7 linked regions of the Homo sapiens genome follow. The protein of the gene in region 1 interacts with the protein of each later gene in a pairwise test. Each region holds a gene or a part of one and is shown in the gene's direction. Other genes may lie near its edges. The genes, in order: MLH3, HEMGN, CYLC2, FBP2, MSANTD3, AOPEP and CDC14B.

What was found.
Region 2: the proteins of MLH3 (region 1) and HEMGN interact in a two-hybrid assay, tested with the Homo sapiens proteins (one large-scale study listed by BioGRID and IntAct).
Region 3: the proteins of MLH3 (region 1) and CYLC2 interact in a two-hybrid assay, tested with the Homo sapiens proteins (one large-scale study listed by BioGRID and IntAct).
Region 4: the proteins of MLH3 (region 1) and FBP2 interact in a two-hybrid assay, tested with the Homo sapiens proteins (one large-scale study listed by BioGRID and IntAct).
Region 5: the proteins of MLH3 (region 1) and MSANTD3 interact in a two-hybrid assay, tested with the Homo sapiens proteins (one large-scale study listed by BioGRID and IntAct).
Region 6: the proteins of MLH3 (region 1) and AOPEP interact in a two-hybrid assay, tested with the Homo sapiens proteins (one large-scale study listed by BioGRID and IntAct).
Region 7: the proteins of MLH3 (region 1) and CDC14B interact in a two-hybrid assay, tested with the Homo sapiens proteins (one large-scale study listed by BioGRID and IntAct).

The regions. Positions count from the first base shown.
Region 1 is NC_000014.9:75,041,182-75,045,160, reverse strand, and holds part of MLH3 (DNA mismatch repair protein Mlh3), read left to right. Parts: intron 1-2,683; coding exon 2,684-2,782; intron 2,783-3,460; coding exon 3,461-3,546; intron 3,547-3,979. UniProt on the Homo sapiens protein: Probably involved in the repair of mismatches in DNA.
Region 2 is NC_000009.12:97,931,520-97,935,498, reverse strand, and holds part of HEMGN (hemogen), read left to right. Parts: intron 1-3,979. UniProt on the Homo sapiens protein: Regulates the proliferation and differentiation of hematopoietic cells. Overexpression block the TPA-induced megakaryocytic differentiation in the K562 cell model. May also prevent cell apoptosis through the activation of the nuclear factor-kappa B (NF-kB).
Region 3 is NC_000009.12:103,001,833-103,005,811, forward strand, and holds part of CYLC2 (cylicin-2), read left to right. Parts: intron 1-1,309; coding exon 1,310-1,431; intron 1,432-2,862; coding exon 2,863-3,019; intron 3,020-3,136; coding exon 3,137-3,846; 3' UTR 3,847-3,979. UniProt on the Homo sapiens protein: Plays a role in the establishment of normal sperm morphology during spermatogenesis. It is required for acrosome attachment to the nuclear envelope, and proper manchette elongation and disassembly.
Region 4 is NC_000009.12:94,587,074-94,591,052, reverse strand, and holds part of FBP2 (fructose-1,6-bisphosphatase isozyme 2), read left to right. Parts: intron 1-3,583; coding exon 3,584-3,746; intron 3,747-3,979.
Region 5 is NC_000009.12:100,433,464-100,437,442, forward strand, and holds part of MSANTD3 (myb/SANT-like DNA-binding domain-containing protein 3), read left to right. Parts: intron 1-3,979.
Region 6 is NC_000009.12:94,724,853-94,729,542, forward strand, and holds the start of AOPEP (aminopeptidase O), read left to right. Parts: upstream 1-1,846; 5' UTR 1,847-1,899; intron 1,900-4,690. UniProt on the Homo sapiens protein: Aminopeptidase which catalyzes the hydrolysis of amino acid residues from the N-terminus of peptide or protein substrates.
Region 7 is NC_000009.12:96,536,121-96,540,099, reverse strand, and holds part of CDC14B (dual specificity protein phosphatase CDC14B), read left to right. Parts: intron 1-959; coding exon 960-1,022; intron 1,023-3,051; exon of another isoform or gene 3,052-3,154; intron 3,155-3,979.

The DNA.
Region 1 (3,979 bases):
ACAGGGTTTTACCGTGTTGGCCAGGCTTGTCTCGATCTCCTGACCTCAGGTGATCCACCTGCCTCGGCCTCCCAAAGTGGTGGGATTATAGGCGTGAGCCACTGCACCCAACCAATATAGCTTTTAGATCGTACCACAGGGCTACATTAGAGCCTGCACTAGGACTCTGGGTTCTCGGTCCACATTTAAAGTGATATTGCTTTGGCAGTGTGTTGAGAGCCAGATGTTGGGAGGTGATAAAGCTGATTTCCATCTGGCTATAATCTTGGCTTTGCACTAGGAGGATAAACATTACATCTGTATCCGTATTTAAAATTTTGAATGCTGCAGAAGAATGGAACATGTATAAATGTAGTTATAAGTCAATTTCTAATTTCTCCTGACGATGAATATCTCTAGCAGAAAGCTGTGGTTTCTTTAAGGTTAAATGAAACCTTTACTTTTCAGTGTTTTTCTGTTTTTCCTTGTGAAAAAAAAATCACTGTAGTAACTTCAGTAGTATTTCATAGTATTTTGTAGTATTCATTAGGAGAAAACTCATTTCTTTCACTGTTGTTCCTGAGACTATCAAGTTGCTCTTAAAGCCACTTTATGTGCTTTTCAATCTATGTGGTTTTATGTCCTGACTTACACTGAAGGCTTTTCAGAGGTAAATCTACAGCACTGACACCTCATCTTCCTGAAATGCAACTGCTTCTGATATGGTGCCAAAAAATAACTGGATTACATTATACTGTGAGATGGCTGTTGCTAAAAGAAAGGGGGAAATCTTAGCTGCCATATTCAACGTAAATATTTCTTCCTTTTGAATATAGACGTTTAAAACACTTTAACCTACTTAACATTCTGGATTAGCATACTTTTTTATGAACTTTTGAGGGTCATGTTAACTGATAGTTTCCTAATGAAAAATATTTTTGGTATAGAAAGAAGTTCCATGAACAGATGGCTCCTCAGTACCCTGCTACCTTTCTGGAAATGGCTGATATACATCATGACATCAGGACATTGTCAAACTTTACATAAAAGTGTTACATGAAATAAATTGTTAAAAGACAATTTTTTTTTTTTGAGACGGAGTTTCGCTCTTGTTGCCCAGGCTAAAGTGAAATGGTGCGATCTCGGCTCACTGCAACCTCCGCCTTCTGAGTTCAAGCGATTCTCCTGCCTCAGCCTCCTGAGTAGCTGGAATTACAGGCATGCGCCACCATGCCTGGCTAATTTTGTATTTTTAGTAGAGACGGGATTTCTCCATGTTGGTCAGGCTGGTCTCAAACTCCCAACCTCAGGTGATCTGCCCGCCTCGGCCTCCCAAAGTGCTGGGATTACAGGCGTGAGCCACCAGCCTAAAAGATACATTTTAATGTACAGAAGGAGGATCTATAAAGGTGATTTTGAGGAGTAGTGTCAAGTCCCCAAGCCTTGGTAATTTTTTCTTTAAAATATATTTTATGCAGTTCTTTCTATTGTAGTTATAAACCTTATTTCACTTCATTATCTTAATTTTATCATTCTTAACCTCTCCAGGTTTAGTCCAACAGATTTATCTCTCATGTTTTCCTCCTGTTCTAAAGCTGTCAAATTCAGCATTGTTTCTAAAACTCAAATCTGATTATCCTTCATGGAGAAGAACAGCATTTGGGCCAGATCTTACTAGACTCTGGAGTTTGAATTGAGAACCTTTCATTTGTCTACCTGTTCACTTTTTCATGCAGCATTTGTTGATCATCCACACTGTGCTAGGTGCTGTCACGTTGCAGGTTAACTGACTTTGCTTTTAGGAGTTCACAGTACTATTAGGGAAGATAGCTATCTAAATATAATTGTATTATAATGAGACAAATGTTAGGATAGAGACATACATTGGAGATAAGAGACATAAGTTGGAGATTTGTGAAGGTTGCACCAAGTTATGGCTGACAAGTACTGCTGTATGTCTAACACAGGGCTTCTCTGGGTAATTTTTTGTTGTAAGGTTTGTCCTATGCATTGTAGAATATTTAGCAGCATCCGTGGCCTTTATCTGCTAGATGCTAGTAGAACGTAGAACCCTTTACTCAAGTTGTGACAATGAAAAGTGTCTCAAGCCGGGCACAGTGGCTCACGCCTGTAATCCCAACACTTTGGGAGGCCGAGGCGGGTGGATCACAAGGTCAAGAGTTTGAGACCAGCCCGGCCAATATGGTGAAACCCCATGTCTACTAAAAATACAAAAAAATTAGCCGGGTGTGGTGACGCATGCCTGTAATCCCAGCTACTCGGGAGGCTGAGGCAGGAGAATTGCTTGAACCCGGGAGGCGGAAGTTGCAGTAAGCCGAGATCACGCCACTGTACTCCAGCCCGGGCGACAGAGCGAGACGCCGTCTCAAAAAAAAAAAAAAGGGTCTCAAGACATTGCCAATGTCCCCTCGTGCAAAATTGCCCCCCAGTGAGAATCACAGTGACCTATTCTAGGTCTTCATTCTGTCTGGTATGAATAGATAATGGAACTAAGCATTAATATAGAGTCCTATATGGACAGCATAATTTCATTAAAGGATTTCTGATTCTCAATCTAGTGTTTAGTAGTCTGCTTTATGTCTTGACTCAGTTTGTGCAGAAAGAGGTTTTATGTGATTAAATTTTTAAAGAGTTTACTTGTATTTTAAGTTCACATTTCTAGGTTTTTCTTTCTTATATTTAGGGTCTCAGTACAGGTGTCAACCTTTTAGAAGCGACCTTGTTCTTCCTTTCCTTCCGAGAGCTCGAGCAGAGAGGACTGTGATGAGACAGGATAACAGAGGTAAGGGTGGCAGAGAGTGCTGGGGCACACAGTACACATCGTACCACCTAACTCAAAAAACAAAGCAGGCTTGCATTAAGCTTGATCAGTGCCAGCTGTGCTGTACTGGAATCAGGAATTCCCCACGGCCCTGTTTAACAGCGGAACTAATTAATTCAGCGCATGCATTTAGGTCAGAAATTACTTTTCCAGACTTGAGGTCAATATTTGCTGATTATGCATAGTCTGTGGTGTCTTGTGATTAGGGGACATGTTTCTTATTTTTAAAAAGGCTGGACTTGCACTCCAAGTTGCTGTAGTTTTATGTAAGCAAAACTCTTCAAAAAAAGCTACAGACATCAATTTTGTGTGTATGTTTAAAAATAGATAAGGTATATTTTGCTTAAAGGCAGTAAGGCTATAAATTTGAGCCATAGCTTCTCTGTCAGTATTCCACAATATCTCTTTTAACAGTTTGGAGAAAAGCTGTAATGCCAGAAGATACAGTCACCAACTCTAGTTTAAAAAGTAACAGATCAAAATAATTTAGAGATACAGCAAACACTGAACATTTGTAGAACATAGAAACAATGTACGTGACCTTTGGTCTTGAGGCTATGGCTCACCAAACAGGAAATGCCATTCCCTCCTTTCCCTGTGGTTCTGGATGCCAACTTTACCTGTTCCCTTTTGCCCTAGATACTGTGGATGATACTGTTAGTAGCGAATCGCTTCAGTCTTTGTTCTCAGAATGGGACAATCCAGTATTTGCCCGTTATCCAGAGGTGGGTCTGTAGCAGTTTTTCTTTGCCTTTTTTTTTTCTTCTTCTTCTTCTTATTTTTTAAATTTTGAGATGGAGTTTTGCTCCTGTTGCCCAGACTGAAATGCAATGGCATGATCTCGGCTCACGTAACCTTCGCTTCCCAGGTTCAAGCAATTCTCCTGCCTCAGTCTCTCGAGCAGCTGGGATTACAGGCACCTGCCACCACGCCCAGCGAATTTTGTATTTTTAGTAGAGATGGGGTTTCTCCATATTGGTCAGGCTGGTCTCTAACTCCCAACCTCAGGTGATCTGCCCGCCTCAGCCTCCCAAAGTCCTGGGATTACAGGTGTGAGCCATCACGCCCAGCCTTTCTTTGCCTGTTATTTTAAACTTTGAGTTTCAAGATGGGTACAGTGGCATGCACTTATAGTCTCAGCTACTCAGGAGGCTGAGG
Region 2 (3,979 bases), on another chromosome or scaffold:
CAGGAGAACTTCCTGTTGTGTGGGGGGCTGGCTTGTGCACTGCAGATGTTTTGTAGCATTTTCTGGCCTCTAGATGCCAACAGCACCTTCCACCCCAGCTGTGACAACAAAATGTCTCCAAACATTGTCAAAAGTCTTCTGGGGTGGGGTTGGGGGAAGACAGGCAAAATCATCCCCAGTTGAGAACCACTAATTTAAGCAAAGCACTCTTCCTAAGAAAGGGCATTTTCCAATCCCCAAACCCCGCTGTGGACTGAGCACTGTCTGTTCTGCTACAACAGATGTTTCTATAACACCAAGTTCACATACGATTGATAAATAGGAGAATGATGTCAGTATAATGTGGGGGTTGTGTTGGTTCATGATTTTTTCCTAGTCAGAAGAAAGCAGAATAGTGGGAAGAGAATTAAAGCTTTCAGCTGGAAAGAAAAAGCCTTCAGCTTGGCTGTTGTATAAGCAGGATTCTTTTCAGCCAGCATCCAGGGTTCCCTCCTCAGAGAGGCACAACACCAGCCTTGCGCAGCTCTCCATCAAGTGGCAGCTTGCACTTCCCTCCTGTGCCCAACTTAACGGCAACCCCGCTGGCTCAGAGCTCAGGTCTCAGCAGCTTCAAGCCTGCAATTACACTATATTTGCATTTACTATCCCCTGAGGCAGCCTCCAGCCACAGTAAACTGCTTGTCTAGACCATCCAAGTTCTCTCTCCTGGTACCAATTATTGTTTTAGTTAGTGTTAAAATGTTGCAAGGGTTTTGAATCATTTGTCCCAAGCCTATTTGCCCCACCTCCATAACCACTGTAACTTTATAGAGGATGATTTTGCAGAAAGTGAGGTTTTTTTAGGAACACGTGTATCATTTTACAGTAGAAATATTTGTATTAGGGTCCTGTGGCAGGTCTATTGAAGATTATCCAATTAGCTCCCAAATTCCATACCACTAAGCAATCTTCCAATCATTACTTGGCTTCCCAAGTACTTATCTACAGAGACGGTGCATTTGTTTGGGAGCCCAGAACCCAGGTATTCTCCTCCCCTCCCCTCCCCCCTCCCCTCCCCTCCCCCTCCTCTCCCCCATCCCCTCCTCTCTCCTCCCCTCTCCTCTCCTTTTCTTTTTTCTCTTTCTCTCATTCATTCATTCATTCACTCGTTTTGAGACAGAGTCTCACTCTGCTGCCCAGGCTGGAGTGCAGTGGCACAATCTCGGCTCACTGCAACCTCTGCCTCCCAGGTTCAAGTGACTCTCCTGCCTCAGCTCCCAAGTAGCTGGGAATACAGGCACTGGCCACCACGCCCAGCTAGTTTTTGTATTTTTTAGTAGAGACGGGGTTTCGCCATGATGGCCAGGCTGGTCTGGAACTCCTGGCTTCAAGTGATTCGCCCACCTTGGCCTCCCAAAGTGCTGGGATTACAGGCGTGAGCCACTGTGCCCAGCCAGTCCAGGTATTTTCTACTATGTGACTTTGTATGTCTGTTCATTTAAAAATTGGTCTTTAGGTTTATATGTCAGTCTCCTTAAATCTGCTTGATGAGCTCTGCCCCTGATAAATGGAGGTAGTCTCAGTGTGCTAACAGAATCAGGTTTCTGGGCTTGCTGGGCTGAGGGTATTCACTCAAATGGATAACACCTTAGTGAGCCTCTTGGCAGCTGGCTGGACTTGCTCTGGTGATACATCTCTATAATGCTAAGGCCTGTGCCCTCTTTTCTCACTACAACACACCATACAGTGAAACTTTATTAGTTTCAGAGAGAGGCAGCAGAGTGCATGGTTATGAGCCTGGCTGTTAAAGCCAGAATGACTAGATTCGTAGCCTGGCTCCCCTACTTGGTAGCCAGAGCCCTTGGAAATATTATGGAAAATAAATAATTCTCATTATAAACGAATAGATTGGCACTCTGGTTTATATACTAGTCTCTTTGCATTTAGTCTGTGTGTATTACTTCACTACCCCTGAGTAAACTCATACTCAGGGTTTCTAGACCTGCAATCCAGGCACGGCTCCTTATCTGTGCAGCCTGCAGGTGGATAATGTATATGGCTTGATTATCAAATACAAGTGTTGGGCAAGTTACTCAACATCTCTGTGTTTCAGTTTTGTCATTTGCAAAATGAAAATAATAACTACCTACTTCATAGACTGATGTGAAGATTATATGAGATAACAAAATAACTAAATTATTTAAACGGTGCCTGACATATACAAGCACTATAAGTGTTTCCTGTATTCATATGAGTCCTAATTTATATTTGAATAATTCATTCATGTAAGTTATTATATATAATTCTTATAACCACCACATGAAATTGGGCCGATATTATTTACCTCATTTCACTTACAAGGAAACCAAGGCATGTAGAGGTTAAGTGACTTGCCCACAACCATGAGAGAGTACAGACTAAAGTTTAGGCCACATAGGTATTTTTTGCATTTTTTGAAAAACTACCTGGGAAGACATGGACTATTACATTACTCAGATCTCCTCATACAGAGATTTAAATAACAACTTCTTTAGGATTTAATATCTAGGAAAAAATATGTGTTTCCTAAGGAACTTGGATTACTATTAATATCTTTTTCAAAAAATTTATCAGAATTTTATGATTTATCTTGTCACCTTGGTTACTTGTAGTAATAGTTCAAAATGCTGAGGTGCCATAACCATCATCTTTAGATTTCCTTTTTTTTTTTTTTTTTGAGACAGAGTCTCATTCTGTCACCCAGGCTGGAGTGCAGTGGCACAATCTCAGCTCACTGCAACCTCCATCTCCTGGGTTCAAGCGATTCTCTTGCCTCAGCCTCCCAAGTAGCTGGGATTACAGACGCGCACCACCATGCCTGGCTAATTTTTGTATTTTTAGTAGAGACGGGGTTTCACTATGTTGGCCAGGCTGGTCTTGAACTCCTGATCTCGTGATCCACCAGCCTCGGCCTCCCAGAGTGCTGGGATTACAGGCGTGAGCCAACGCACCCGGCCTAGATTTCCTTTTTTAAATATAATTTTCAATATTATTTTAGACTGCTCTGTTACATCTATACCTTTTTTTCTTTTTTTCTATAGCCTCATATTAGAAGTGAACATATATACTTTTTTGGTATTGACTTCAAACTGTGTTTGGTGAGGTAATCTTTTAAAAACACTTTTTTACAACGGAAATTTCAAACATACACAAAAAATGGAACAGGGTATACTTTTTTTAAATATGCAAGGAACGATGGGCACTATAAAGATGTAAAAAACACTGGTTTTTATCTCCAAAGACTGTCTAAAATGTTTACTAAAAGAAATACAGTTTCTTCAGAAATAACTACAGTATGAGGCAGCCTACATTCCTTGCCTTTAGCATGGTACACCCAATAAGTCCTATAGGAGTGCTAAGCTGGGAGAGCATTTTAGTCCTGTAGTCTCTTAGAGAAGGCTCCATGGAGCGGGTAGCATGAAACAGAATTTCAGTAGATTTAGAAAAATGATGAAATGCTTATTTATAGTACTTCCCCCAGCCCCCAGCCCCCAGCCCATCTGTATTAGCCATCTGTATTTGGTTGTATTTGCAGTGCCTAACAATTTGTCACTGGCTGCAATTACCATGCATATCCTTTCATCTTCTAGATCTTTAATTTATTAATTAGGAATAGGTATAATATGGCCACTCATGCCTATCTACCTGACTTCTTAACTTCAAGAAGTGCTTTTGCAGCTTTTGACCCCTTACAGTATACCTCATTTGATATATACTGTAGCAACTTAGAATTCTTTACACAAAATAATGTATTTGATAATCAAGCCATATACAGCATCCACCTGCAGGCTGCACAGACGAGGAGCTGTGCCAGGTCTAGAAACTCGATTTGTATGAGTTTACTCAGGGGTAGGGAAGTAACACACAAAGACTAAATGCAAAGAGACTAGTGTATAAACCAGAATGCCACTCTATTAATTTGTAATGAGAATTATTTATTTTCCATAACAAAACTTTAAGA
Region 3 (3,979 bases), on another chromosome or scaffold:
ATATGAAAGCCGGAAATAGTTACATGTTAGAAGTCATACAATCAGATAATCTTACAGTTGAAAAGCAATGTAGAAATTGGATAAATAACTTCTTGTTTATGTCAGGAATTTCTTCTACAACATTCCTGATAGATTATAACCAGCTTATAATTGGCCCCAAATTTCTTTACTAGACAAGGCAAAGGTATTTGATTTTGAAGAACTTCAAATATCAAGTATTTTCCCCTCAGATACTGAGCCTAAATATAATTTTTTTCTGTACATTTTTCCCATTGTTCCTATTTTCTTTAGAAAACTCATAGGAAATGTCTATTATTTCCACACATTAATGCTGCATGTGTCTAAATACAAAGATGAAATCTCTCATTGGCCTCATTGGCAACTTAAATAACTTTAATCATTTGTATTATAGTTTTCAGATGACTTCACCTACCCAGTCACCATTCTGTAGGCTTTTTGTCATTTTCCTTTACAAAATATGTCACCTATAACGATACCATTCTTGGGTGTATAGCATTTGCCCCCTTTTTTTTTTTTTTTTTTTTTTTTTTGAGACAGAGTCTTGCTCTGTCGCTCAAGCTGGAGTGCAGTGGCATGATCTGGGCTCACTGCAAGCTCTGCCTCCTGGGTTCACACCATTCTCCTGCCTCAGCCTCCTGAGTAGCTGAGACTACAGGCGCCTGCCACCACACCTGGTTTTTAGTAGAGACGGGGTTTCACCGTGTTAGCCAGGATGGTCTCGATCTCCTGACCTCGTGATCAGCCCACCTCGGCTTCCCAAAGTGCTGGGATTACAGGCGTGAGCCACCGCGCCTGGCTGCATTTACTCTTGTAGCTTGGAAAGTTGTTACTAACTAAGGGGATCTTAAGTCTTAGCACTTAGATTAAATCATGTATTTACTGAATATTTATGCTGGCATTGTGCTAAGTACTATGGGAGCTACAGAAGTAGTTATTTTCTGTTATAATAAAATTGTATACTAACCAAAAGCATAAAGCAAAAACCTAGACTGGAAGAGATAGATTTAAAAGGAAGCAGTAAAACTGAGTCTTTCCATTTATATTATAGTTATGCTAGTTTTGCAATGACTACTTTATACAGTCATCTGTAAAACTGCTCAAAATAGAAAAATCAATTTTTATTTTCTCATATTGATAACAGAAAATTGCAAACATTACCAAATAAATGAAGTCATAATTTGAATCACTTGTTTATTCATTTACATGATATACGTTGCACGTAATGCCATTTCAGCTCTGATGGAATTCTATTCACTCCAAAATGTGTTTTTTGTCTCCCTTATTTTAGTCAGTGAATTAAGCAAAAAATCATGGAATCAGCAACACTTTGCCCTGTTATTTCCCAAACCACAACGGCCAGGAACCAAAAGGAGATCAAAACCTTCTCAAATACGGGACAACACGGTTTCTGTAAGCATTGGAAAGATTTTATAATTATCAGTAATAAGTAATAACTTAGTAATAATTATAACCATAATAAGTAATTATAATTAGTCTTAAGTAATCACTAAGTAGTAAGCTTGTGAAATCATGTATAGTTGTATGTGTTATAGATCAAAGCTGACCAACAAGTTTCTGCAATGATGGGAATATTTATCTCCGTAGTCCAATGAGGCTATTAAATACTTGAAATGAGGCTAGTGCAACTAAGGAATTGAATTTTACATTTAAATTACATTGAATTAAAGTAAATTCACATGTGGCTATGAAATGCCCTACTGAACAGCACAGTTAGAGATAATTCAAAGTCTACCACTTAAAGAAAATAGATATGTTTTATTTGCATTTTACTGTATACAGTTGCCCCTTTATTTCATATTAACTATTTTTTTCAGTAACCACACATTGTAAAAATTGTTTCCAAGGAGCACAAAATTATGGAGTTCCTGATGTTAGAGTTAGTGTGAACATTCAGGAAATGTTCTACAGCTGGAGAAATCCCTCATTTGAGTCATGGGATTACACTATACCTTTAATACTTCCTCAGTTCTGTAATATAGAATTCAGGACTCAGAGTATTGGAAAATAAATATTTCGCAATATTTCTGGAGTCAACATGGGATAAGCATATGCTCAAAGAAAAGTTTTCACAAAATAAATGTATCATTAACTTGTTTATTTTTAAAAATGTAACCCATTAGTAGTGAACAAAGTTCTTTTTTTCTTGCTGAATTTATTTTTCCATTTTTGTTAATATTTGTACAGAGATTAGCTATTTTTGCCATTCAGTTTTGTACATATTTAATTAGAAGTTGAAAACAAAATGCATAATTTCTCTCAAATTAACATTCCCTGTTGTAGATTTCATTATTTCAGTTACCAATCTGATCATACTCAATTTATATCTGCCAAGCAATAGGAGTTTCAGGCTTTTATCTTTAACCATGAGTAGCATTCTAAATTCCAGAGACTCTGAAAATGAAAATAGACTAAGATATGCCTCAATCTGAAACTATTAGATATTAGAGAATAGTTTCTGATTTACCTAGAAATAGAAGGTGAGCAAGATATTCCAAGAATTCTCAAGAACATACAGTTTAAAAAGCCTCCTATGATTGTGAAGATATGCCATGAGTCTACCAATTTGAACCTAAAATCCCGAGGGAGCTATGAAGATCCTATAAACTGAAAGTAAGCTCCAAATGAGGCATGATTATTCACTAGTTTAAAAAAAGGATGACAATAAAAAAGCAAAATAAAGGATGAAATCTCAAACTTCCCCATTTTTTAACAAAAGCTAAAATCTTTTTATGGTTGAAATTAAAATATATTTGGGATATATTAATACAAACTGTGTTATTCACTCACAAGTTGTTCATCATTATTGTAACCATCTTTCAGATAATTGATGAAGAACAATTAAGAGGAGATCGTAGACAACCATTATGGATGTACCGTTCTTTAATGAGAATTTCTGAGAGACCATCTGTTTATTTAGCTGCCAGGAGGCAGCCTCTCAAACCAACTCGTACTGTCGAGGTGGATTCTAAAGCAGCAGGTAGAGATAACTTACTGTTTTTATAGTATCTCTGTAATTTTCTGATTAGATTTCTATTAGAATTTTATCAAGTTTGGATTTTCCCATTTTAAGAAATATTTGAATATTTATCCCCAGAAATTGGTAAGAAAGGTGAAGACAAGACAACACAGAAGGACACAACAGATTCGGAATCAGAATTAAAACAAGGAAAAAAAGATTCAAAGAAAGGCAAGGATATAGAGAAAGGAAAAGAAGAAAAGCTAGATGCAAAGAAAGATAGCAAAAAAGGTAAAAAGGATGCAGAGAAGGGCAAAGACTCAGCAACAGAATCTGAAGATGAAAAAGGAGGTGCAAAGAAAGATAACAAAAAAGATAAAAAGGATTCAAACAAAGGCAAAGACTCGGCAACAGAATCTGAAGGTGAAAAAGGAGGTACAGAGAAAGATAGCAAAAAAGGTAAAAAGGATTCAAAGAAGGGCAAGGATTCAGCCATAGAATTACAAGCTGTAAAAGCAGATGAAAAGAAGGATGAGGATGGAAAAAAAGATGCAAACAAAGGTGATGAATCGAAGGATGCCAAGAAAGATGCAAAGGAGATTAAAAAAGGTAAGAAAGATAAGAAGAAGCCCAGTAGTACAGACAGTGACTCAAAGGATGATGTCAAGAAAGAGTCTAAGAAGGACGCCACGAAAGATGCCAAGAAAGTTGCCAAGAAAGATACTGAGAAAGAATCTGCTGATTCAAAGAAGGATGCAAAGAAAAATGCTAAGAAGGATGCAAAGAAGGATGCAAAGAAGAATGCAAAGAAGGATGAAAAGAAGGATGCAAAGAAGAAGGGCAAGTAGGCCTTGGATAAGAATTTGAACCGAAAGAATAATTCAAAAGCATATTTGATGAAACAATAGTGGTAGTCTGCAGCTGAATTTGTGAGAAAACAAGAGGCCTCAAAGAATTAAATAATTTTTAAAAGGTGGTAAA
Region 4 (3,979 bases), on another chromosome or scaffold:
GGGGACGTGGAGAGTCTTTATATCTAGCTCAGGGATTGTAAATACACCAATCAGCACCCTGTGTTTAGCTCAAGGTTTGTGAGTGCACCAATCGACACTCTGTATCTAGCTGCTCTGGTGGGGCCTTGGAGAACCTGTGTGTGGAAACTCTGTATCTAACTAATCTGATGGGGACGTGGAGAACCTTTGTATGTAGCTCAGGGATTGTAAACGCACCAATCAGCGCCCTGACAAAACAGGCCACTCGGCTCTACCAATCAGCAGGATGTGGGTGGGCCAGATAAGAGAATAAAAGCAGGCTGCCTAAACCAGCATCGGCAACCCGTTTGGGTCTCTTTCCACACTGTGGAGGCTTTGTTCTTTCGCTCTTGCTGCTGCTCACTCTTTGGGTCCACGCTGCTTTTATGATCTGTAACACTCACCGCGAAGATCTGCAGCTTCACTTCTGAGCCCAGTGAGACCACGAGCCCACTGGGAGGAACGAACAACTCCAGATGCGCCACCTTAAGAGCTGTAACACTCACCGCGAGGGTCCGCGGCTTCATTCTTGAAGTCAGTGAGACCAAGAACCTACCAATTCCGGACACACCACCACCCAGGCAGGGGACCGCAAGCCCCTGGCTCCTTTTGGGGAGATCTTTCTAGCAAGGGCTCCGTGAATGCAATTTAAAAGTTATGAGAGTCTCCTTTTCCCCTTCTCTTTCCTCTTCTTATGGTGGGAACAAGAGAGGCTGGAGTGCCCGCCTGGAGCCTCTCCTTGGCTTTCTCATGGCCGTGGGGGATCATTCCTTTAGAGACTGTTAGTTAGCTTTAGTGTCAGTCAGAACACTGCAAGATACTGTCCTACGGGCTAGAGAGCCCCTTTCCCCCATCATCTCAGGTGAAGCTATTGCCGGGAACTCACATCTCCTGGTGAGTTTCCATTCTTTCTAGGAGGAGGGGTGCTGCCCAGTGCCTGGAGAGAGGGTGCAGGGGGTCGGCTGAGGGGTGGGGTTAGGCGGATGAGGGGGCATTTGCAAAGCGCAGGACAGAGGCTGTTTCTCAGCTCTGCCCACCGCAGGCCTGGGCCTGCTGTTCATCCTCCAGTGGCAAGCGCATTCAGATTCCATATCGAACCAAGGCCTGTGTTTGTGGTCCCCTGAAACTCAGATGCAGTCAGCCTAGTTTTGTTGCTGCTGTTGCTTGCTTGCTTTTGTCTTGACCAGGAGGCACAGTCTTTGGGGTGAGGCTGCTAGGAGTGTTTTCCAAGACAGCTGACTGCTCACGTCATGGTTCCTCAGACACCAAATGATGTGCTGTGGGTGGGGGTTGGTGTTGGGGGGTGAGGTGGGGGTGCTGTTCAGGGAAGAGGGTGGGAAATGAGTTTGCCCCCAGCTTAAGGTAGATCAGTGGTTCTCAACCCTGGCTACCTGTTAGAACCACCTGAGATTTCCTTCAACAAATAAATAGCATTCACATCAGTAGGCAAAGGAAATTCCTTTCTTGCCATCCTTTCCTCATAACTCAGTGAGCAGACATGGAGCATGGGCTGTGTGTCTGGGCACTGCAGAAACAGACAGAAGGATGGATCCTGCCCTCTGCAAGCAGGTCATGCAGCAGGAAGCCAGTCCGTGAGTGTGGTGAACACTGAGGAGGGATGATGGGGTGTTTCTGGTGTGTGGGGCCCACTTGAGAGGACCAGGGAGGCGTCCCAGAGAGGAAAAGGAGGAATAGCAGGAAGAAAGCCGGGCAGAGAGCACTGCTGTGGTGGGAACACCATTAGTGAAGGCGAGAAGGACCAGAGCCGCTTGCTGGGTGCTGGCCCAGGGACATCTGCGGCTGTTGGAACGTGAGAGGGTGGCGGGGTGGCTGAGCCTTGCTGTAGTGGTGCAGGGTGGACACATGAAGGATACGGCTTCCCTCAGAATGGAAAAAAAAATCCTGCCATTGTGGAAGCTCACAGACAATAAACAGGACCTAGATGGTGGTCAGGGCAGAGGAGAAAATGCATCGAGTAAGATGTTGGGGACCAGGGAATGCTGCTCCAAACAGACGGCCAGAGAAGGCACTACTGAGAGATGATCCTTGAGCCAAAGCTTGACTGGGGTGGCCGTCACATGGCTCTTGAGGAAGAGTGTCCCAGGTGGGGCAGCAAGGCCACTGGGCAGTCAGTCACAAGGCAGGTGTGTGCCTTGGAGGTTTCAGAGGCTGGGGCTGACCCTGTGAGGATGAGAGAGACGGGCAGCCATGCCAACCCGGGCGCAGAGATTCCACGGTGGTGCCTGACACCCACTTGCGGGGACTTGGATTTTGCCTCTGGGTAAGACTGGGGGCACTTTAGGAGGACCCCTCCTGCTGGTGTGTTGAGAACCCCCTGAAGGGGCGAGGGTGGAAGTGGGGAGACCTTTGCATATGAATGCTCTAAAACCCAAAGCCTCTAGATAGAATTATTTTGAGGGTCTCCCTCCATCGCTCAGGCTGCAGTGCAGTGGCGTGATCACAGCTCACTGCAACCTCCACCTCCCCAGGCTTAGATGATCCTTTCATCTCAGCCTCCAAAGTAGCTGGGACTACAGGTGTGTGCCACCACATCCAGCTAATTTTTGTATTTTTTTGTAAAGACAGGGTCTCACTGTGTTGCCCAGACTGGTCTTGAACTCCTGGGCTCAAGCGACCTACACGCCTTGGCCTCCCACAGTGCTGGGATTACAGGCACGAGGCCCTGGCCCTGACTGGCATAGAATTCTCGTAGTAGCACTCTCTTATACTGCTTGGGATGGCAGTGAAGAAAAAAATGAAATAAGTCTGCCCCCACATTTCCTTCTCAGTTCAAGTAACACCAAGCTACCACAGGGCAATTTTAATTCATTCCAGCAGGGCACTGTGTGAGGACAATCCACAAAGACTTGAAATTCCAGGGCTTGGCCGGGCATGGTGGCTCATGCCTGTAATCCCAGCACTTTGGGAGGCTGAGGCGGGTGGATCACCAGGTCAGGAGATCAAGACCATCCTGGCTAACATGGTGAAACCCCGTCTCTACTAAAAATACAGAAAAAAATTAGCCGGGCGTGGTGGCGGGCGCCTGTAGTCCCAGCTACTCCGGAGGCTGAGGCAGGAGAACGGCGTGAGCCCAGGAGGCGGAGCTTGCAGTGAGCAGAGTTCGTGCCACTGCACTCCAGCCTGGGCGACAGAGCAAGACTCCGTTTCAAAAAAAAAAGGAAAAAAGAAAAAACAAATTCCAGGAGCTGGAGGCCACAGTCCTTTACTTTTGGAGTCCTCAGTTATGGCAATGGGTCTGATTTGATGAGTCCCCCCATCTGCTCCATCTCCTCGTGCTGAGACTGGGTTTGTGTTTTAGTGAGACTGAGTCCTGGGTCATCTCATTGGAAGGCTAAGAAAATATGACAACGACTCCAAGGTGTAAGGGAGGCAAGGCTGAGAGGTATCCTGCCAGGCATAATCGCCTTCTTCTGCACGTGTGACTTGGAGACTCCAGAGACACAGAACGAGAGGGGACTGCACTGCTGGCGTTTTAGGGTCCCAGGCTCTTTGCTGGAGTTAAGACCCCCTAGTGACTTCCTCATTCAGCCTTTTGTCTTCTCAGGTATGGAATCGCAGGAAGCGTTAACGTGACGGGAGATGAGGTGAAGAAACTGGATGTGCTATCCAATTCCCTGGTGATCAACATGGTCCAATCCTCCTATAGTACCTGCGTCCTGGTCTCAGAAGAGAATAAGGACGCCATCATCACCGCCAAGGAGAAGCGGGTGCGTCATGGGGCTGCGGTGCCCGCTCGCCAGTAGATGATGATACTGAGCCGGAAATAAGCTGCCTTACTTTTCTTTAATTCCCGGGATTCTCCTCTATTTCTTAACATTTGTTTTCTGGAAACAAAGGATTACATACTTCTCTACTTGGAAATCTTGTGCTGTCTAGAGAAAGAAGACTCCACAGTAGGACAGTGATTCATTCAGGAAATTGTTCAGAGTGATGCAGGAAC
Region 5 (3,979 bases), on another chromosome or scaffold:
GGCTCAAGGGATTCTCCTGTCTTAGCCACCCTAGTAGCTGGGGCTATAGGCACATGCCACCTTGCCTGGCTAGTACTTTTAATTTTAATTTTTATAGCAATGGAGTTCTCCCATTGTTGCCTAGGCTGGTCTTGAACCCCTGGGCTCAAGCAATCCTCCTGCCTTAGGCCCAAAGTTCTGTGATTACAGATGGTGATCACCACACCTGGCCAAGGTCCTTTGTAGTTTAAAACAAAGGTTATTTTTGAGATGTTGAGTCAGGAGACAGGCAAGATACTAGGGTAGGAGACAGCCTTTCTTTAGAGCAAACGGATTGCCCATTACTTTCCAGGCCTTGCTTGTAGGGAGGGCTGCCACGTGTCCTTCAGTTCACCCACCACTTCTGAATATGTTAAGTCTTTACCTCCCGAGTTGTGGCCCTGCTTTGTCCTCAAGCTAATCTAATTTCAGTCTATTCAAGTAGGAGTTAAGGTTCCTGTTCTAGATCCCCCCAGTTTTGGAGTATGTCCCTAGGCTCATCTCTGTCACTGTGCTTATCACACTGTCTCGTCACCAGCCTATCCCACAATACATGTGCATTATGTCTTCATGGGACTCTGATGTCCTCATAGGTCTGTGATCTCCTTGATCTTAAGGAATACCATTCTCTCTGATGCCTGCACAAAGTAGGTGTTTGGTTAATCCTCATATATCCTACCTGCCTCTGCTTTCTGTTGATCCCCTACCCTACTGTGGACACATATACATCCTGCTCATTTCTTCCTTTGAAACAGTCTTTGGCTGGGTGTGGTGGCTCACACCTGTAATCCTAATCCCAACACTGGGAGGCTGAGGCAGGCTGATCACCTGAGGTCAGGAGTTTGAGATCAGCCTGGCCAACATAGAGTGAAACCCCATCTTTTCTAAAAGTACAAAAATCAGCTGAGTGTGGTGATGGGTGCCTGTAATCCTAGCTACTTGGGAAGCTGAAGCAGGAGTATTGTTTGAACCCAGGAGGCGGAGGTTGCAGTGAGCCGAGATCACGCCACTCTACTCCAGCCTGGGCGACAGAGCTAGACTCTGTCTCTCAAAAAAGAAAGAAACAGTCTTTGGTGTATACTTCCTCCTTTCCAATAACATTGTCCCCACTCAGAGTCCAGGCCTTCTCTTATCAATTATTTATCTGATGATCTTCTTCAACTCTCTCCATTCATATCCTATACATTCTTAAAGATCTAGCTCAAATGTCCTCTTGTTCATGAAGAATGCAAGTGAACCTCTTCCCTCTTCTTCATGCTCAAGGTGCTTTGTCCTCTCTTCTGGTGTCTGTTTCAGCGTGCCTCTCATTTTAGTTGTCAGTTTGTGCATGTCAGCGCTCTTTCTAGGCTGGAGGGTTCAGCCTGTCCTTGTATCTCCCACATACTCTAGAACAGTGCTGAGCCTTTGGCAGGAGTTCATTACATATTTGTTGAATTGTGTGTGTATGAAATAAAGAGCCAATAACTTGTTATATATACACACACACCATACACACACACACACACACACGTGCGCACACACACAGTATTATTCTACTTTTGGAAGCAGTTTAATATGGGTGGGAAGAGTAGAAAGAACTAAAATTGATTGAAGCTGTAGTCTGTGTTTCTTTATTCACGTTGCAGGACTTTTGCGCAGAGGGAATGAGGCAGGGCCGGGATAGCGGGGGAGTAACTCCATTTCACAGATGAAGCATTAGAGGTTGATTGACTTGCCCAAAGTCACACGGTTGGGTGAGGGGTAAAGTCAGGATTTGAGCCCGGGTTTTCTGCATCCAGTGTCTTGGTTCATTTCACCTCACTTTAAGATCAGCAGTCTATTAATGTCCTGAAGTCTGATTTTCCAGTGCCATAGCTCTTCAGTCATGGTACCCATTCTGAGTATTAACTTCAAAGAACTCCCCTTTCCACAAAGAGCAAGAGATGTGAAATCTTGACAAGTTTCTCTGTCTTTGCTCAAACTTTAGGACTTAGTTTCACCCTTGGTGGACTTAAAAATCACTAGATGGTATATTAGTCTTCTCAGGCTACCATAATAAAATACCACAGATTGTGTGGTTGAAACAACAGAAATTGGATTCTTGCAGTTCTAGAGGCTGAGAAGGCCAAGATCAAGGTGTTGGCAAGTTAGATTTCATCCTGAGATCTCTTCTGTTGGCTTGTAGGTGGTGGCCATCTTGCTGTGTGCCATCTTGCTGTGTTCTTACATGACCTCCTCTTTGTAAGCCATTGAGGGTAGCAGGGCACGCCAGCTTCCTGGTGTCTCTACTTATCAAGGCACTAACCCCACTGGACCAGGGCCCCATACTTATGTCCTTATTTAACCTTAATTGCTTCCTCAGATGCCCAGTCCCCAAATACAACCACTAGGGAATTAGGGCTTCAACATATGGATCTTGGGAGGACACAGACATTTAGTCCATAAACAGATGAATTTTTGTTTTAAGTTGGATAGTAAATGTATGCATTACAGTATTCTGGTGGTTTAGTCAATGTTAGTGTTTTGGAAATTGTGCTAATTGTTTCCTTCTTGTTCTTCTATGGGTGTTGGAATTGTGCCTTTTAATTTAGGCCTATCTATGGGTCTTTGCCTAGCCCAAGGGGAACTTCTGTTGCATCTGGATTTTGCTATTTTATTTGACCATTTCTACTTTAATGCAGCTTTTTTTCATTAAGAGATGGGGTCTCACTGTGTTGTCCAGGCTGAAGTGGGGTGACTGTTCACAGGCACAATCATAGCTCACTGTAGCCTCTAACTCCTTGGCCCAAGTGATCACCCTGCCTCAGCCTCCCAAGGAGCTGGGACTACAGGCACACCACCATACCCAGCTAATGCAGCCTTTAGTGTACTGTTTTGTCATGTATGATGCTGTGTGCATGGTGGGCTGTTTTATGCCTATATCAAAATATCTGCATTTATGAAATGTTTACTGAGCGCCTACTTTGTGAGGGTCACTGGGCTGCTTGTTGCCCTACAACCATGCATAAGAATGGATCATATACTGTCTAGCAGAACAGCAGACACAAGAGATAATGGCTCCTGAGCAGAATTGGGGACAGGGAAGTCCAGTCTATCCCTAATAAAAGTTGATGCGGCAGGGAACGCTTTTTATGTTGTCATTTATAAACAATTATGGACAATTGATGAATAGTTTTAAACAAGAGTATCCTTTCTAGCCTCAAAGTTTCTATTAATAAGCATTAATAAGCTTTGCTGGAGAGACCTCTTTGGGAAGTATTTGTTTTTGTGCTCAAGCGGAATGCCAGCATTCCCCGGAGGCATGGACCATGTTAAAGCTCCAAAAGATCTCCACAGTTACCTTTCAAACATACAGTCTTTTTGAGACAGAGTCTCACTCTGTTGCCCAGGCTGGAGTGCAATGGCTCGACTTTGGCTCACTGCAACCTCCGCCTCCCAGGTTCAAATGATTCTCCTGCCTCAGCCTCCTGAGTAGCTGGGATTACAGGCACCTGCTACCACGCCTGGCTAATTTTTTTATTTTTAGTAGAGATGGGGTTTCGCCTTATTGGCCAGGCTGGTCTTGAACTCCTGACCTCAGGTGATCCACCTGCCTCGGCCTCCCAAAGTGCTGGGATTACAGGTGTGAACCACCATGCCTGGCCCAAACATACAGTCTTACTGGATCAAGGGCGGAAATTATTTCAGAGCTCTGGTTAGAGTGAGGAAGGTACACGTGGGAGGATTATGGGCCCTAAGTTTGAAATCGAGAGGAGGTGATGGAGGGAGGGAAATGAGTGGGGGAAGAGCCAACAGATGGAGACACACTCCACCTAAATTGCCCTACCCTGGGCCCTTTCCCGGCTGATGATTAGAGTGTTAATGCCCATACTTTGAGGAGGGGAATAGAGGCTATCACTAGGTCTGAAACAAGAGAGCTAAGCAGAGCAGAGAGGAGCATGAGCATTGGAGTAAGTCAGACCACTTACTATTTTGTGACCAG
Region 6 (4,690 bases), on another chromosome or scaffold:
CAGTCTCTATCCCTGGGCTTCACTCCTTTGTGTTAACTGCCCGGCTGCTGTAGGCTTTGGGGTTTGCAGCCTCTGATGGAGCCTAAGAAAGCCAAGGGAAAAAAGAGCTCAGGAAAAGGGAAAGTGGAAGCCAGTGATAGAAACTGAGGAAAGATAGGTGACAGGAGAACCTAGAGGACTGACTTGGAAACAAGCAAAGAAATCAAGTTTGAAAGGAGGTGAAACAAACCTTGTTTTAGCTATATGATCCAGCTATTTGCTTAGGCCCCAAATTTAAGAATTATTTTTGACACTTTTCTTTTCCTTATCTCCCTTATCTAAACTCATCTCCAAGTCTGTCACATCTACCTCAGAATTATTCCTGAAATTTGTCCATTTCTATCATTTCTTACCTGCTCATTGCAAAAGCAACTCTTCTCTTTGCATCCTTTTAAATTGTTTCTCAAAAGTTTCATGTATACACAGCAGCTAGCAGGGTGATGTTATAAAACTAGATCCTGTCACTTACGTGTTGATAACTCTTCACTAGTTTCCCCTTACACTTCGAATAAACTCGTATTCCTCACAGGAACCCAGAGAGTCTGTGCATGATGGGGACTCTCCTTGCCTTCTTGATCTCATCCTCTGTTCTTCCCATGACCTACTTTCTCACTTTCTCCAAGGCACCACATTCTGCCCCTTCCCTATTGCTTGCTCACATGTAGATTCTTCTCTTGGCTGTTCTTTCCTTAGCTCTCCACAGAGTTGGCTGCTTCTCAGTTTACTGAACCTCTTCAGAGGGCACTTTCTTGACATCTCAAATCAAAAGGTCACCTGTCTTCCTTTAATTTCTCAGCAACTTATTTTCCTTCTACTTTTTTTTTTTTTTTTGAGATGGAGTCTCGCTGTCGCCCAGGTTGGAGTGCAGTGGCGCGATCTCGGCTCACTGCAGGCTCCGCCCCCCGGGGTTCCCGCCATTCTCCTGCCTCAGCCTCCCGAGTAGCTGGGACTACAGGCGCCCACCACCTCGCCCGGCTAATTTTTTGTATTTTTAGTAGAGACGGGGTTTCACCGTGTTAGCCAGGATGGTCTCGATCTCCTGACTTTGTGATCCGCCTGCCTCGGCCTCCCAAAGTGCTGGGATTACAAGCGTGAGCCACCGCGCCCGGCCTTTCCTTCTACATTTAATGTTTGCTTTCTCAACTAGAAAGTAATCCCCATGAGGGAAGGCACAGCGTCTGTCTTGTTCCTGGTTGTTTCCCCAGCTTTTGTTAAGGGTGCTTGCCTGGCACACAGGAGGACCTTAAATTGTGGTGGAATTAATATGTGAACAATAGTCACATGCAGCAGAGGTGAGACTAGGCTAAGGAATAAAATTGCACATCTGTATTTCAGTAACTTTTTTTAAATTTTATTTGAAACAGGGTCTTGCTCTGTGGCTCAGGGTGGAGTGTAGTGGCACGTTCATAGCTCATTGCAGCCTCGAACTCCTGGACCTAAGCAATCCTCCTGCCTCAGCCTCCATAGTAGCTGGACCACAGGTGCACGCCACCACACTCGGCTAATTTTTTAATTTTTTTGTAGAGACGGGGCCTCCCCAGGTTGCCCAGGCTGGTGATTTTTTTCTTAAGCTTCATAAAGATTTTGCAATTAGGAATACTAGGGTACCAGGGCAACTCTACAAGCCCTAGCCAGCCAAGCTGCTCGCGCCCTCCTATGACCGCGGCAGCTCCGCGCCTGCGCAGATCTCCCCCGGGCGGTCTCGCCCTCTCATCCTAAGGGGGCGGGCCTAGCGGAAGGCGGGTCAGGCAGAATGCGGCCCCGGGCGCGTGTGGATGACGTCACCCGGCGCGTGCCGGGGTAGCCCGTAGTAACCCCGAGTCTGCGGAAGTGGTGACCCGTGGGACGCGGCTGAGACAGGTAACCTGTTCGCTCCCTGTTGGGTCCCTGCCTTCCTCTCCTCCGGCGTCGGGATGGCGGCGGGGACAGCATCATTCCGTTCTGAAGGCGACGGGGAACCCTCCCTTACCCTCACTTTTGCTCGACCAGCGAGGACCCGCATCCCCTCCTCAGTTCTCCCAGACTCCTGGGGCTGAAACCCATCCTGGGGACTGGGCGGAGCGGTCACATCTTACCACCTCAGCTGTAGAGGTGGCCACGGGCTCTGGCTGTCTTCTCCCCGGCGGCACAGACCTTTCTCAGCCTCTGGGTGCCTCCTCCTTCGTCTCTTGCCTCCAGGCCCTCGGTCACCTGCCGGTCTCGGCTTCTAGCCCCACAGGGCTCATCTCCAGTCTTAAGTAGGCAGAACAGTTTCGATTCGATTCATTTCCACTTGCAGTGAAACCCATCCGCCTCTTCTTCCCCCGGAGGATCTTTACTGAGAGCACCACATTTTGAGTTTTGGGGTCCCTATAGAACATTCATACTGTTAGTCTGGAGTTTTGTTCATGAACGCATGCATGGGCGGGGAGGGGGTGGCACAGTAATGTGATTATGATTATCTATTGTGATAATAAAATATCCACTTAGGATCCAATCCACTGTTGAGATGCATGGAACAGTTAATAGCATTGCATAAAATGCCCCTTGTACCTGATTTCTTTTTGGTTTTCGTGCAATGATGACAATTACCCTTGCAAAGGTAGCCCTCAAAATAAGTAACATAACCCGCTAGGGATGTTTAGATCGCAAAAAAACAACAATAAGGTTCATATGGTTGATAAAGAAATAATATGGGTTATTACAAAACCAGACAGAATAGATGCTGAGTATATGGGACGAGAAGCAGAATTCTGAAATCCTTGATCTCATTGATTGTTTGGTTTTGTATTTTTAAAATACTTTTAGTCTGTTCCATTTTTGAATAGTGTATATTGTGCTTCGTATAAGTCTGGGAAGCCTTCCAATGACTTGCTAATTGGGAAGATTAGATTCTTCCAATATTTGGGGGACAAAGTAGAATAAGGTTAGGGTATAATAATAGTTGCTTACTGTTGGCCCATCTGCTTTATCCCAGGTACTGTGTTCAACACTTTGCATATGTTTTCTCCTTACTTCATACAACCACCTCGTGAGTTAGGAATTATTACCCCCAATTTATAGAGAAGGAAATTGAGTTTCGGTTATATGAAATTGACTTGCTAAAAATTCACAGTTAACTAAATGGCAAAATCAAGATTTAAATTCAGGTCTGAATATAACTTCAAAGCCTGCACTTTTCTTAAAGGACTCTACTAATGCTCAAATTTTAGGCTTTTTACAATAGTTGCACACAATTTTATGAGTTTGTTCACCTACACAAATGATTTAACACTTTTTAATATCTTTAATACTGTGTTAAGTTCCCATATTCCTGGAGTTAAAACACCTGGAAAGCTTAATTTGTGATCCTTCCTGCGTGCGCGCATGCACACACACACACACACACACACACACACACACCATCCTTATTTTTAAGAATGAGATAAATGGCAAACAAGATTGTGCAGTAAAACCCTGCTGTTTGGAGTCCTCAGGGAATGGGTAATTTTACAGTTGAGAGCTTAATACTTCTTTAGAAATGAAAATTTTATTGACTCTTTGAGATGGAAATTTTAAAAATGTACTACACAATTTCTTGCCTTCTTAAACACTCAGGATGCCGAGTAGATTTTTGACCTCACTGTGCCCGGTCGAGGACAGTTCTTCTAAGGAATTTGGCTGTGAGGAGATAAAGAAGAGTTAGAGGGAGATGTGGACTTAAGGGAGGGTTTTGTTCATTTGTGGGTTTTTCCTGTAAGAAGAGACTGGAACATTCACATTTGTGAGGTGGAAAGGGCTTGGAAACAGGAAGATGCTGAGGTCAAGGATTTAGAGGGCTGGATGATTGATGAAGCAAGGTCCCAGAGGCCACCAAAAGACGATCTCCAGAGCAGAGGCCACCTTCAGGCTATGCGGGGCACGAGGGACACTTCTTCCACTCTCCTGGGAGGGATGGGGAGAAGGGTGGGCACAGACGTGAGTGAGTGTGTGGGATGAGGAAGAAATGTGTGGAAGTTCTTGTGTGATGGAGCAAAAGTTCTTAAGTGCAGCAGGTGAATTTGCTGACATTGCGTTGATTTGTTGGGATAGGGATTGAGGAAAGTTGGTAGAAGTTTAGAATAATCACTGAGGGAAAAGGACAGGGTTTGATGGGGAGACTAGAGAGAAACATGAAGGGTTGCCTGTCCAGGAAAGTTGGTGTCCCACCAAAGTTGGAGTCTATGAATATCTAGAGTCAGATATTCTTGTGATCGTGATATTTATTCAGCTTTTGTTGAGCTTAGTAGTTTAGAAGTACAGAAGGTGGATGATTCCATTGCTTAAAGGTTTGGTTTTATAAAAGTTCTGTCAGAAGGATGAAAGAGCAAGAGACTTGAGGTTAAAATGTTCCAAGAGTGTTTGAAGAAATGAACTATGTTATTCTAAAGATGTCCATAGAGGCTGGGGGCACTGTGGCTCACTCATCCCAGCACCTTGGGAGCCCAAGGCAGGAGGATCCCTTGAGCCCAGGAGTTCAAGACCAGCCTGGGCAACATGATGAAATCCTGCCACTACGAAAAATACAAAAATTAGCCAGGCATGATGGCATATGCCTGTAGTCTCAGGTACTTGGGGGAGGCTGAGATGGAAGGATTAGCTTGAGCCCAGCAGGTCGAGGCTGCAGTGAGCTGTGGTGGCGCCACTGCACTCC
Region 7 (3,979 bases), on another chromosome or scaffold:
CAGTCAAGGAAATAAATTTTGTGATTGACTTAGTCTTGGGATTAGTGTTTAAATAACTATATAAAATGAAGACCTTTTTAGTTGATATTCTAGCCTTCTTATTTTACATTTGTATTTCAGTAGTTTACTTTTGAAAACTGGGTGTACAAAAGCCCCCTCTTTGAACCAAGAATACCTTGTGGATCAGCAATTCTTGCTTCCCTCCTGTTTGGCTCAGGGATCAGCAGCCAGGAGGATATTTCTCAGAGGCTGCTAGGTCTGTTTGTCCTTGTCTCAGAAAATAGACACTCTGCTTATTTTGGTTATCATACTCTGCCTGCTATCACACAGAGTAAGGCTATAGGATAGGACAGAAATTTTTTTTGTTTTATTCCTATGGAAAGAATATCTTTTTTTTCCTCAAAAGTTTTGATTTTAGTGTTGATGTCAGAGCTGTTTACTTTAGGGAACATTGATTAAAGACTGTTCGGAAGAATTTGAAAATGAAGATATGGATGAAGTATGAGGGTTTTGTTTGGGATAAACTAGCACATGGATTCTCTCCTCTTTCTTATCGATGTAGAGACCATTGGGTTGTGCATTATATTTGAATCCTAAACTTCTGAATTTTCAGCCAGGGGTGGTAGTGATCTGGTAAGAGAAGAGGATTACTTTCAGGGCGTGATTATTTAACAATACATGGATAGGATGACTGGTGAATGAAAATAAAAAAGCACATCTCACAAACAAAATCCAAACAAAACACAACAAACTTATTACATATAGTTATAATTAATTTCCATATAAAAGAAGCACTTAGAAGACGCCGCCCACTTCCTTTGAAAGCTGTTCAGTGGAAAGTAATCTGATCATGACAATACTTTCTTGGGGGGCCCCTGATATTTAGTATTCTGAAATTGGATAGGAAACTGTTTTCTTATTTGCATCCTTGTTCTTAAAAGCTTTCTTTTGGATTTTAGGCAATGCAGTATGGCTTCCTTAATTTCAACTCATTTAACCTTGATGAATATGAACACTATGAAGTAAGTCTTCAAGGATCATGTTTTCAACTCTTCCTCCCCCCGCCCAGCTTTATTGAGGGGAATAATTGACAAATAAAACTTATATATACTTAAGATGTACAAAGTAATGTTTTGATATATGTATACACCATGAAATGATTACCTAATCAAGCTAATTAACATATTCATCACCTCACATAATTTAGTCTTTTGGCGTGTGTGATGAGAATACCTGAGATGTACTCTAGCAGATTTCAAGCATACAGTACACACATTAGATCTCCAGAATTTACTTATCCTCTGATGGTTTGTACTCTGACCAAAATTTCTCTGCCTGTTTTTAATTTTTCTTTTTTTAAATTGAAAAAAAAAGAGAGAGACCAAGTCTCGCTCTGTTACCTAGGCTGAAGTGCAGTGGTATACATGGCTCACTGCAGCCTTGAACTTCTGGGATTAAATGATCCTCTCTCTTCAGCCTCCCAAGTAGCTGGAATCACAGGTATGTACCACCATGCCAGGCTAATTTTTTAATTTTTATTTTTGTAGAGATGGGGTTTCACTTTGTTGCCCAGGCTAGAGTTGAACTCCTGGCCTCAAGCACTTCTCCCACCTTGGCCTCCCAAAGTGCTAGGATCACAGATGTGTGCCACTGTGCACGGCCCTGTTTTTAGCTTTCTTAATCACCCATTTCACTTACAGAAGCAATATTCTTGTTTTGTTTTAGACGTGTATAGAGTGAAAAAAAGTCAAGTCTTCATCTTCTTATCCCTATTTCTCCTGTCCCAATTCTCAGTGGGAATTTCTGCATTTGATGCACAATTCTAGAGTGAATGAGTGTGCCCCGTGTGTTCTTTATACTGTTTAGTTTAAATGTATTTTAGTATTGATGGCTGTCACACAGTGATTGAGATGCTTTTAAAACCCTTAGCATAGAATAAGATGAGATGAATAGTCATTATACACCTAATTATCTCTGGAAAATATCTTTGTTTTTGCCATAACCTTCGGTTTGTCAGGACACTTCTGGTTGCAAGTTACAGAAAGTAAACACAAATAGCTTAAATAAAAAAGGAAAAATCTGCCAGGCGCAGTGGCTCATGCCTGTAATCCTAGCACTTTGGGAGGCCTAGAGGGGCAGATTGCCTGAGCTCAGGAGTTTGAGATCAGCCTGGGCAACATGGTGAAACCTCATCTCTAAAATACAAAAAGTTAGCCAGGCGTGGTGGTGGGCGCCTGTAGTCCCAGCTACTCAGGAGGCTGAGGCAGGAGAATCACTTGAACCCGGGAGGCAGAGGTTGCCGTGAGCCAAGATCACCCCACTGCACTCCAGCCTGGGTGACAGAGCAAGATTCTGTCTCAAAAAAAAGGGAAAAATTTACTGGATTACATAAATTAAAAGTCCAGGAATAGGATTGGCTTCTAGCATGCCCCTTCAGGTGCTCAGACACTTAATCAGAAATTGGACTTGAAGTTAGTTTTATTCTCAGGCCAGCCTTCTCCAGTAGTGATAAAGATGGCCACCAGCAACTTTGACCTGCCAGTTTGGCAAAATGATCAGAAAAGTGTAATCTTAGCTCCATCAGAAGGCCCAGGAATGCCTCTCACTGGCCTGACTTACGTCATGTGCCCATCTCTGCACCAGCCTGTGTTCTTTGGCAGGGCAGGGCTAAGGAATACTCTGGCCAGCCTTAGTTCTCTGGCCATCCCAGGAGCCTGGGGCATAGGGTCAGCCCCATCAAACCAGCCGGACCAAAAAAAAATTTATTTTCTAACAGTTTTATTTTATTTTATTTTTCTTTCTTTCTTTTTTAGAGACAGGGTCTCACTCTGCTGCCCAGGCTGGAGTGCAGTGGTGCGATCTTGGCTCACTGCATTCTCTCTCCCAGGTTCAAGTGATCCTCCCACCTCAGCCTCCCAGTAACGGGGACTACAGGCACGTGCCACCATGCCCAGCTAATTTTGTAATTTTTTTGTAGAGATGGGATTTCGCCATGTTTCCCAGCCTGGTCACAAACTCCTGCACTCAAGGGATCTACCTGCCTCAGTCTCCCAAAGTGCTGGGATTACAGATGTAAGCCACGGCACCCAACCACACAAAATTTCTTAAAAACATAGGACAGGGCCAGGGAGAGATAAGCCAGGCAAAACCACAGGTGTGTTCTATGTTTTTTAACATAGTATATATATTTTAAAAAGAATAAATAATTTGATTCTACAGCTTTATCCTCCAAATAGGGAATGAGTAAGATACTGTGCTAAAGCCCTTTTCAGCCCAGAGTAGTTGTAGCCTCCTGTCTTCTTACCCTGCTGTAGTTACCTTGAGCAGACTTGCTCCCCAGCACTGGGGAGATGATTCCTCAAACAGCAGCACTTCATGTGGCAGCATCTTGAATCCTCAGAGAATTCTTTTTCACAACGTCCAAAGTAAATATTATTTCAAACTCTTACGTTTAACTGAACTGTTTTTTCAATTTCAGTTAATAATGACACTCAGTTGTTTCTGTGATGTACCAAAGATGTAAGAATACATTGTAGGATTCATTAGGGCCAACCCTGTCTTTACTTCTCTGATAGCAGTCCATTTCTAAAGTACAACGTACATTTAACTAGCACCTTAAACTTACAGAATATAGCTAAGTTATTAACACCTTTTTTGCGCTTGTCCTTAAAACATTAAACATTTGAAACAAGTTACTTTGTCTATGTAAGCAAAACTGCTAAAAACACTAGTTGGTATTTGTTCCTTTTGTAGTGATGCCTTTGTGTGCTATTAATGAATAATATAGGCACTAAGTAACTCCCCTGTTACTACTGTAGAGATTGGAGGGTCTGGGCTGGGGGGTAGCAGGGGCACACCACAAACGTCTTCACCTCCATGAAGCTGTGTGGTGACACAGGGAACTGTTTAGGTTCCCACACACCAGTTCAGTTATTATAGTGTATTTAGAAATTTGGGGATAGTGTCATTCATTGATTCT